Homo sapiens: one gene and its partner. The protein of the gene in region 2 purifies or fractionates together with the protein of the main gene of each other region. This does not show direct contact. Each region holds a gene or a part of one and is shown on either strand. Other genes may lie near its edges.

Region 1 (3,366 bases), about 46 Mb from region 2:
CAGATGGAAAACAGAAATATATAGTTAATAAAATCCAAAGTCACACAACCATGACTTGAACTTGGCTGTGACTCCAAAGCCAAAGCACTGAACTGCTACTGAGCTGTAGTGAAATCAAGATAGCTAAGCCTTCAGAGATCTATCCTTAATTGGTTTTTTGTAAGGCAATATTGCATAGTGCTTGAGAAAGAGGGCTCTGGAGCCAGACTGCTATGGTTCATATTCAAACTCTGCTAATATACTGTGTGATATGAGATTTCTTAACCCCTCTATTCCTCAGTTTCCTCATCTGTAAAATGGAAATAATACCTTTATTTCATAGAATCATTGCAAAGATTAAATGTGTCAATACAAATACTCAGCACAGCACCTAGCACAAGGTAGGCATTCAATAAATGTTAACCTATATTTATAGTTATTTCCCTGTTGTTTTTGGAGAATTATGCCCAGGAACCAGACTGTCCCCTCTGACTACATTATTAAGAAAAACACTGATACAACTGGGTAATATACAAACTAAAGGTAATTTACTTAAAAATTAAGACCTCTTTAGAGCAACTGATGATTTAACTGCTTTTCACCTACACAAACTTTCAGTAAGGAATGCAAAGAGAAGGTTACAAATTAGGCAGTACAGACGTGGTATTTCTCTTTCACCTTCTTTCTTGGACAGTCCCTCAGATATTTTAATAAAATACCAAATAAATAATCACTCTCATTACAGAACTGTACTCTAGGCTTTAAGTTTATAAGGAGCTTTAGAAAGATTTAAATCCTGACAGAAACAAGTAAAGTCAGTTTGTTGAAAGATTTTTTTTTATTCTACAAGAAATTGATAGGTGCAATCCTGTTAAAGAAATTTCTTTTCAAAAGTAAATGAAAAACCCCTCTGAATTATTTATATATTAATTTTTTGAAAACAATAGTCATAGGGCCTGCTTTGTCCTATTTAACTATAAATGTTACACATTTACAAACTGAAACAAAAATGCATAGTACAGAGATTTAAATGAAATCTTCGAAAGAATAAATTTGCTTTTCAGTCCACTGTATTTTCAAAATTGATTATCACCAAGCTTGGATGAAAGCTGTGAACCACAAACCATTTGTTTATTTAATAGAAAAAAGAATGTGTAGATTATTAGCAAAGTAATGCCTTAAAATGTATCTTCACACAGTTGAAATTTTAGTATAAACTTGTATATCAAGTTGCTTTCCATTATTTATTCTACTTTAAAAATATATACAACTATGATGTTCAAATATGTATTCTGAGCCATTATGTTCAAACATAAATATCTGGGAAATTCAAACTGCTGCAACAAGTTAGGAAAGGATTAAGGAAAAATGATGAGCTACAAATTATGTAGTTGGAGGAAGAAAAAAATGTTACTTAGCATTTATGTCTGGATAGGTATGTATTTTCTAATTTACATACACATATCCAGTTGAGTATAGACAACCATCAAAATGTAACCAGTTACACAGAGACTAGACTAAGCCAACACTATTTTCTATAACAGGTAACAGTAGTGATTTCAAAAATTTTAATATCTCAATAGTTTCACCAAAAATTATTTGTGGTAATATGCTAATATTCTGAAGTTTTGAGAGGCACAGATTAAATGAGTGCACTATCTATGCCAAACTCAGCAAGTCTATAACTTACTGTTTAATTATGGTGTAAGTATCTGAACACAATAGCATAGAGAGGCAACCAGAAAAGGACATTTTACATATGCCCATGCTGATCAATCACATTAACATCAGTGCTTACAACTTTCAAATTTAAATATAAAGGGACACTTGCAAAGCCGCAAGACAACTTCAGTACAAAAACCCAAATTGATAAATCTGCAAAATCTTAAACTTCTTAATCCATTGATAAATATTAAGGAGTAGCTGGTCTTCAAACACCGTAAAAAGTTAAAGGGTTGAAAACATGTTCACCCTTTGCTATACGGTGGCATCTGAAATTATCAGGCATGACAACTTGAATTTGTTTTGCTCTTCCATGCAAGAAGTATATATATGCATTTTAAGATAGCTTAGAATTAAGAGTTAACTTCTAGTCAGTATTGGTAAGTGACTAGGATGGCTATCCAATCAGTATTCTATGGTATCACATACCAAAGTCTCTACAATATGACAGTCTTGTCTTGTTCAGAACTCATCACTTTTGGGTAGGGAAGAGAGGCACGGCAGAAAAGCAGTTGCAATTAAAAAAAAAAAAAACAGCAGAAAAGCTTTAAATATCTATATAATTTTGAATCATCTTGTATTCTATCAGATAATACTTGGAACAAAATCTTATTTCAATCAGCTCAATCTATACAAGTTATAAGATGCAACACAATGTAAACCCTATAGTCTACAGAATATGCACTATTTAATACTCATTAACTAAAGAAAAGTCAATGAAGATTACCAAATAGGAAACACAAAGCATTCTAAATTTTTAAATCACTTTAGGGTAGCTAACCAGAAACTACAGAAATAAAATATGCACGACAAAAAAAAGAAAAAAGGAGAGCAACTAACTTTTCAGTGCATCACATCCATGAGGATAAAATGTATGGCACTTATGTGTGAGACTAATACTAACAATTGTTAATTTAAGCTGGGAATGACTCACAGACATTAAAGTCATATAAGGGCAAGAGCTAGCCAATTAAAATTTTAAAATTAAACATATCACCTTTTTTCCTTGTAAAAGCACTGAAAATGTAATGAGTACGTGTAACTCACTAAAAATTTTCCTATTTCATTTGCCCCCATTGTAGTGTCTTAAATTATTCTGTAATATTTCTACCTGTTACAAAGTCTGATATTTAAGGCCTGTATAAACTCTTTTACACTACTGAAACTACTGTTTTCTGTGTACTACAAATGCCTTTATGAAAAAATAGCATAGCTGGTTTAAATTATAAACCCCAAAAACAAAAGTCTGACATTTTCTAAGCTAGTGAGAAATCAATTTTACCATGATATATCAATATTAACTAACATTCCTATGGTAGATTTATTTTTCCTCCATAAAACTGAACAGTGCAGAATAGGGCTTGGGCTACAGTTCATCACATTTGGTTTTCTTATTAACAATTAAAAGGCAATTTTCTTCCTCCCTAACACATGTAGACATTAAATCTAAAGTTTTTAAAATATCAACTACCTATAAGAAAAGTAGTCTTAAATGGTTAAAAGGAATCAAAATACCAAAGTTTAGTGTGCGAAGAGTAGATATAAACAACTGCGAACAGAGTAGATCATTGGTGTTGAATATTTAACATGAATAGCCCAAAATGAGTTCCAAAGTTTTTCCACCTTTACAAATAAAAAAAGGTGTCCTTTCCACAGTTTGGGAAT
Region 2 (7,039 bases):
TATGTTTTATACTTGTTAATGAAATCTTCCACCAACTGGCAATTTTCAACTGGTCAAATTTGTAAATTTTATCCTCCCTTTTTGGCCTCTGGTTTCAAGTATATTAAAAAGTCTTTCCCTATCTTTGTGATTATAAACATATTTTTCTGGCGGGGTGCAGTGGCTCACACCTGTAATCCCAGCACTTTGGGAGGCCAAGGTGGGTGGATAGCTTGAGGTCAGGAGTTCAAGACCAGCCTGGCCAACATGGCGAAACCCCATCTCTACTAAAATACAAAAATTAGCTGGGTGTGGTAGGCCTGTAATCCCAGCAACTTGGGAGGCTGAGGCAGGAGAATCGCTTGAACCCGGGAGGTGGAGGTTGCAGTGAGCTGGGATTGCGCCCCTCCACTCCAGCCTGGCAACAGAGCAAGACTGTCTCAAAAAACAAACAAACAAAAATATTTCTCTATTTAGTAGTTTCATAATTTTTTTGTCATTTACATATTTAATCCACTGGAAATGTATTTTTATATAATATGGTATAGAGATATAGCTTTTTTTTCCCCACAAAGTAAAGAAGTAATTAACCAAAAGCTGGTTATTTAGGTCAACTATTTCTCCCCAGTGATCTAAAATACCATCTTTGCTATATACTGAATTCCATAAACTCCTGGGTCTGTTTCTGGACAACCTATTTTTATTTCTTCTTTTACATTACATACCATAATTCTTCATTTATTTTCATTTTTTATTATTTCTTCTTTTACAGACAACCTATTATTATTGTTACTATTTTTTTTTTTGTGCTGTCCAGGAAACAATCCCAGGTCACAAGAATGGGAACTTATTATTTTTTTAAAAGTTGATTTATGTCTTTATTCTTGTGCAAGGACCAAACTGTTAGGTTTTTTTTTTTTTTTTTTGAGGTGGAGTCTCGCTCTGTCACCCAGGCTGAAGTGTAGTGGCGTGGTCTCGGCTCACTGCAAGCTCTGCCTCCCGGGTTCACGCCATTCTCCTGCCTCAGCCTCCCGAGTAGCTGGGACTACAGGTGCCCGCCACCACGCCCGGCTAATTTTTTGTATTTTTAGTAGAGACGGGGTTTCACCTTGTTAGCCAGGATGGTCTCGATCTAAACTGTTAGTTTTGTCACTTAATTCTGCTACTTTATAATTGCAAAGTAGGATCCTATTAATTAATTCTGTAAGTTTATGTATGTTTTCTTATTCTCAAGCGCTAACTCTTCCAAGTAAGTTCCAAATAATTTTAGAACATCCCAAACCATAAACAAAAATATCCAATGAAGGCAACTAAATTGAAATCTAAATAAAATAAAATCAACATCATTATAATAAAGAGTCTTCTCATCCAAGAAAATCTCATCCATCTATTCGGTCCCTGTTTTATATCCTTTAAGTAAAACTGTATTTTTCTCATTTATATCTTGCATATTTCTTGTTAGGTCAACTTATTAAATTTTAAATGCTACTTTATATTTCTTTTTTGGCCTCGTTTTGTTTTATTATTTATTTGGTTGTCTGTTTTACTTCCAGCAAAGACTTCAAAAATGTGATTTTCAAGGAAGAAAGTAGTGAAGAAATTACATACAGTACCTTTTCTAAAGCAATATGTAGTTCTTTTTCATATTCTGGTGGCAATCTCAGGAGTAGAACCTGGCAGGCATCTTTAATCAGTGGAACAACACTGAGAAATATTAATATAGCAATAAAAAGAGAACAGAGTGGGTCAGCGATGAACCATCCAAACTGCTCTATAAGAACTGTGGATACGATCACACCAATGCTGCCAAGTGTATCTGCCAAAACATGTAGAAATACACCTACAAATAAAATATATAAGGACATTAAAAATTAAGGCACATCTAATTTAGTTTTTTAATACATTCTACTAATATTACTGGATACCTACTGTGCACCACATACTCTGCTACTGGCTAGTACTTCAAAATGCCTAAAACATGGTCACTGCCCTCAAGGAATTCAGAATACAGTGGTAAAAATATAAGGACATAGGCACTCATGACACAGCGTGCCAAATTTTATGGTGTACTTTGTCTGGAAAGGCTTCCCAAAAATCATACTTGAGGCAAGTTTTGACATTACCCACATTACTTATATTAAGCAATCAGAATAAACAATTCAGCAAAATAAATGATTAGTACTTCCTCCATTTTTTTTATAGTGCAATAAAAATTTCTAAAAAAGGAGTAAGAATTTCCTTTTTGTAATGAAGGTTCATAATAGCACACTGTGTTTACCTTGCAACTAATATCTATTCAGCTGTCACTATGAAAAGGACTATATAATTATAATCATTTAAAAACTAACATTTAAGAACAAATATATTTTCATTTTCTTTTTGTTTTGGATAGAGTCTCACTCTGTTGCCCAGGCTGGAGTAAAGTGGCGTAATCTTGGCTCACTGCAACCTCCATCTCCCAGGTTCAAGTGATTCTCGTGTCTCAGCCTCCTGAGTAGCTGAGACTACAGGCGCCTGCCACCACACCTGGCTAAGTTATGTATTTTTAGTAGAGACAGGGTTTCACCATGTTGGAGAGACTGGTCTCGAACTCCTGACCTCAGGTGATCCACCCACCTTGGCCTCCCAAAGTGCTAGGATTACAGATGTGAGCCACTGTTCCCAGCCTCATTTTCTTTTTAAAAAATTTTCTGTGACGGCCAGGCATGGTGGCTCACACCTGTAAGCGATTCTTCTGCCTCGGCCTCCTGAGTAGCTGGGATTACAAGCACCTGCCACCATGTCCGGCTAATTTTTGTATTTTTAGTAGGCACAGGGTTTCACCATATTGGCCAGGCTGGTCTTGAACTCCTGTCCTCAGGTGGTACTCCCGCCTCAGCCTCCCAAATTGCTGGGATTAACAGGCGTGAACCACCATGCTCCCAGCCAGAATGTCCCTCTTTTTAAAGGCTGAATAATATTTAATTTTATGTGTATTCAGGTAAGAATATTTTCTATAGTGATAGCTTCAGACCTTTCTTTTAGTCACAGATTGCTTTTTAAAAATCATATCATACCAGAAGCCCAAAACTTAATACAAATAAACACAGAGGGTTGATTTAGAACACAGTTGAAAAGTAGGATAATATTTTGCAAGGACTCACCCCTCATGTTAGCATTCATGCCTCCACCCGCAGATCCGTGGCTGTGACCATGCCCATGGTCACTGTGTCCATGCATATGGTGTGAATGGCTGTGATCAGATGAGTGACAGCTTCCTTGAGAAGCTCCATGGGCATGGCTATGGGCATGGCTAAAGGCACAGATACCAATAAGGTTTACTATCAGCCCTCCAACTGAGACTGGCTAGCAAAAGGGAGAAAAAAAACCTTTAAATTAGTAATTTAAAAATAGACTTGTTATTTAAAAGTTATTATATAGCTATATATGTTTTTCTGTTTACAGTTTTGAAAGTATTCACAGTAAAACCTTACTAAGTTTCAGTAAGTCCAAAATTTTAAAAATGTGAATTTTAGAACATTTTAGAAGAAACATTTTAACTTTCAAATATCAAGCAGAATTGGTAAGTAGAGGAATTTGGACTTATTTCAATTAAGAATGGTATGTACTTGGTTTATGGTTTATGTATAAATAAATGATGCAAAGTTTTGTTTTGTTTATTGAAGAGTTTGAAAGTACTGCTTACTAGGGCAAGTATACACTGTACCTGAAATCTTTATATTGCTAGGTAAATTTGAACAGTTTATATGCCAACAATTATAATTTATTAATGAGCAGATTCCAAATATGGTCTTATTATGTCTTAAACACAGTAAAATTTTCCAAAGTAAAACAAGTATAATAAAAAGGAAACATACAATAGTAATCTCGCATTTATTTAAATTAAAAACAAATTTTTTTCTTTGGTAGAGACAGGGTCTATGTTGCCCAGGCTGTCCTCAAACTCCTGGGCTCAAGCGATCTTCTCACCTTGGCCTCCAAAAGTGTTGGGATTATGGGATTACAGGCATGAGCCACTATGCCTGGCCTCTCATTTTTTTCTTAACAAAGTGAATGAAATTACTTTAATTTAATGGTGCCACAATAATACTCCAAAGGATAAACAAAGTTACTTATCCTTGATTATCTGCTCTTACAAAATGATCTTGAATAGTAGTAGCTCAGGGTGTTAATTTGCCTACATCTACAATTTAAAGCAATCCATTTGTTTTATAAAAGGAAAATATAAATATGAGAAGGACAAATACTTTTAATTACTTTTCAAAAGTAGTAAGAGATTTACTTTATTAAATGTGTAGGGAGGTTATTTACTTCTTCCTGATTCGGACCATTTGACTCCAGATTTTAAAATTTCATTAGGCTTTATAAGCTGGTAGATGGTTAATGACTTTGAATGAAACCAAGTACTGCTTACAGAGACTCCATCATCTCATAAGTACTCCTTCTCCCCTACTGAAAAATACTTCATCATTGTGTATTTTATCAGGAAAATAAAAATGTAGAAGATGAAAGTCCCCTATAATTCTACCACCAAGGGTTAGTCACGCTTAAAATGGTGTATTTTCCATCTGTGTACTAACATACATACACATAACACCCTTTAAAACCAACAATGTAATCATAATACTATTTTACAATTTTTTTTTTTTCATTTTGAGACAGAGTTTTGCTCTGTCAACCAGGCTGGAGTGCAGTGGCATGATCTCGGCTTATTGCAACCTCTGCCTCCCAGGTTCAAGCAATTCTCCTACCTCAGCCACCCAAGCAGCTGGGATTACAGGCGCCCGCCACCATGCATGGCCTGCAATTTGTTTTTCACTAGTACATCTCGTAAATATTTTCAGGCCAGTATATACAGATATATCTCATTCTTTTCAATAGCTCTGTAATATTCTATTATATAGATAACAAATTTATTTAATTACTTTTTTCACTGGTGGACAGTGAATTGTTTCCATTTTTTCACTATTATAAATAAGGGTACAATGAATCATGTACTACTTTTTTTTTTTTTTTTTTTTGAGGCAGAGTCTCTCTATCACCCAGGCTGGAGTACAGTTGGTGCAACCTGGGCTCACTGAAGCCTCTGCCTCGTGGTTGAAGTGATTCTCCTGCCTCAGCCTCCCAACTAGCTGGGATTACAGGTGTGCGCCATCATGCCCGGCTAATTTTTGTATTTTTAGTAGAGATGGGGTTTCACTATGTTGACCAGACTGGTCTCAAACTCCTGACCTCAGGTGATCCAACCACCTCGGCCTCCCAAAGTGCTGGGATTACAGGCGTGAGCCACTGCACCCGGCCAGAGTCATGTACTTCTATATGTTTGTGTGAATGTTTATGTATGATAAATAGTCAATATCAAAGGATACAGGCACTAAAAAATCCAAAAAAGTCTATTTTTCCAAACTGTATTATAGAAACATTTTACTCATGTATGCTTCCACCAGCAAGAGCCAGAGCTGCTTTTTGTCATTTAACAACTGATTTCCTACGACAAGCCAGGTGCTAGAACTGAACTTAAGAGTTAATAATATGTAATTCAGGTCCTGAAGATACTTACATATCTTAATTGTGGAAGAATGACAAATTAAACAACTGCAACTCAATGTTGCTAAAAGAAGAATGCACAAAACATAATGAGAATACTGAGAAAAGGAATCTAACAAACTTTGTGGAGAGAAGAGGGGGATTAAAAGAAAGTATTTCCAAAAATTAGGCAGGCGTGGTGGCAGGCGCCTGTAGTCCCAGCTACTCGGGAAGCTGAGACAGGAGAATTGCTTGAAAAAAAAGAAAAAAAGAAAAGAAAAAAAGTATTTCACATAAGCAAAATCTTGATGGAGGCTGAAGGGCAGAAGTAAGGAAAGGACATGCCAACTACAAGAAACAGCACATGTAAAGCTTTGGTGGTACAGGGAGAACATTAAAAGTTGCTATAGCTGGCCGGGCACAGTGGCTCATGCCTGTAATCCCAGCACTTTGGGATGCCAAGGTGGGAGGATTGCTTGAGGTCAGTAGTTCGAGACCAGCCTGGCCAACATGGCGAAACTCTATCTATACAAAATATACAAAATTTAGCAGGGGGTGGTGGCACATGCCTGTAATCCCAGCTACTCAGGAGGCTGAGGCACGAGAATCGCTTGAGCCTGAGAGGTGGAGGCTGCAGTGAGCTGAGATCATGCCACTGCACTCCAGCCTGGAAAACAGAGACTCTGTCTCAAAAAAAAAAAAAAAAAAAAAGAGAATTTCTAAGAGGGAGCAGTATAAATGTAAACAGCAAGATAGGAAGTTATGTTGATATAAGTAAAAAATAAAACCTTCTTAGAGCAATAACTGCAAACAATTAAACTTTAGGATAGAAAAAACTATGTAAGTATGACTAGAAATCCAAATAGGAAAATAAAAAGACTTACTGTTAACATGTGAGTGTCTAATTCTGGAGGATCAATCAATCTAGCCACTGACTCCATAAACACAAAAAACGCTATTACTATTAGAAAAAGTCCATTAATAAATCCAGACAGAATTTCTATTCGGCCGTACCTAAAAACATAGAACATTTTTCAGAAAAGGAAAAGGACAAATATTTTTAAAGTATAAACTTTATAAATGAGGAAACAAGTCCAAATTTTCATACTACTAAGTAATTAATAATAGAAAATTAGCAATATTTTAAATATCATATTAATGCCTGGAAGGTCCTTCATATATATATACATATATATATATACACATATATATACACGTTATATATGAATATATATACGTTATATATGAATATATAACATTTTAACGAATATATACATTTGTTAAAATGTTATATATTCATCAAAGTCCTTCTTTACTCTCTTTTTTTTTTTTTTTTGAGACAGAGTCTTGCTCTGTCACCCAGGCTGGAGTGCAGTGGCACGATCTTGGCTCACTGAAAGCTCCGCCTCCTGGGTTCACACCATTCTCCTGCTTCAGCCTCCCGAGTAGCTGGGACTACAGGTGCCTGCCACTACGCCCGGCTAATTTTTTTTGTATTTTTAGTAGAGACGGGGTTTCACCGTGTTAGCCAGGA

What was found. Proteins that work in one complex are often made in the same cells at the same time.
Region 1: the proteins of SLC30A5 (region 2) and TMED7 purify together in Homo sapiens (affinity purification with mass spectrometry; 2 studies listed by BioGRID and IntAct, with this or other methods). This does not show direct contact.

Annotation. Positions count from the first base shown.
Region 1 is NC_000005.10:115,612,705-115,616,070, forward strand, and holds the end of TMED7 (transmembrane emp24 domain-containing protein 7 precursor), read right to left. Parts: 3' UTR 506-3,366; downstream 1-505. UniProt on the Homo sapiens protein: Potential role in vesicular protein trafficking, mainly in the early secretory pathway. Appears to play a role in the biosynthesis of secreted cargo including processing and post-translational modifications.
Region 2 is NC_000005.10:69,117,979-69,125,017, reverse strand, and holds part of SLC30A5 (proton-coupled zinc antiporter SLC30A5), read right to left. Parts: intron 6,520-7,039; coding exon 6,390-6,519; intron 3,325-6,389; coding exon 3,123-3,324; intron 1,820-3,122; coding exon 1,593-1,819; intron 1-1,592. UniProt on the Homo sapiens protein: Together with SLC30A6 forms a functional proton-coupled zinc ion antiporter mediating zinc entry into the lumen of organelles along the secretory pathway.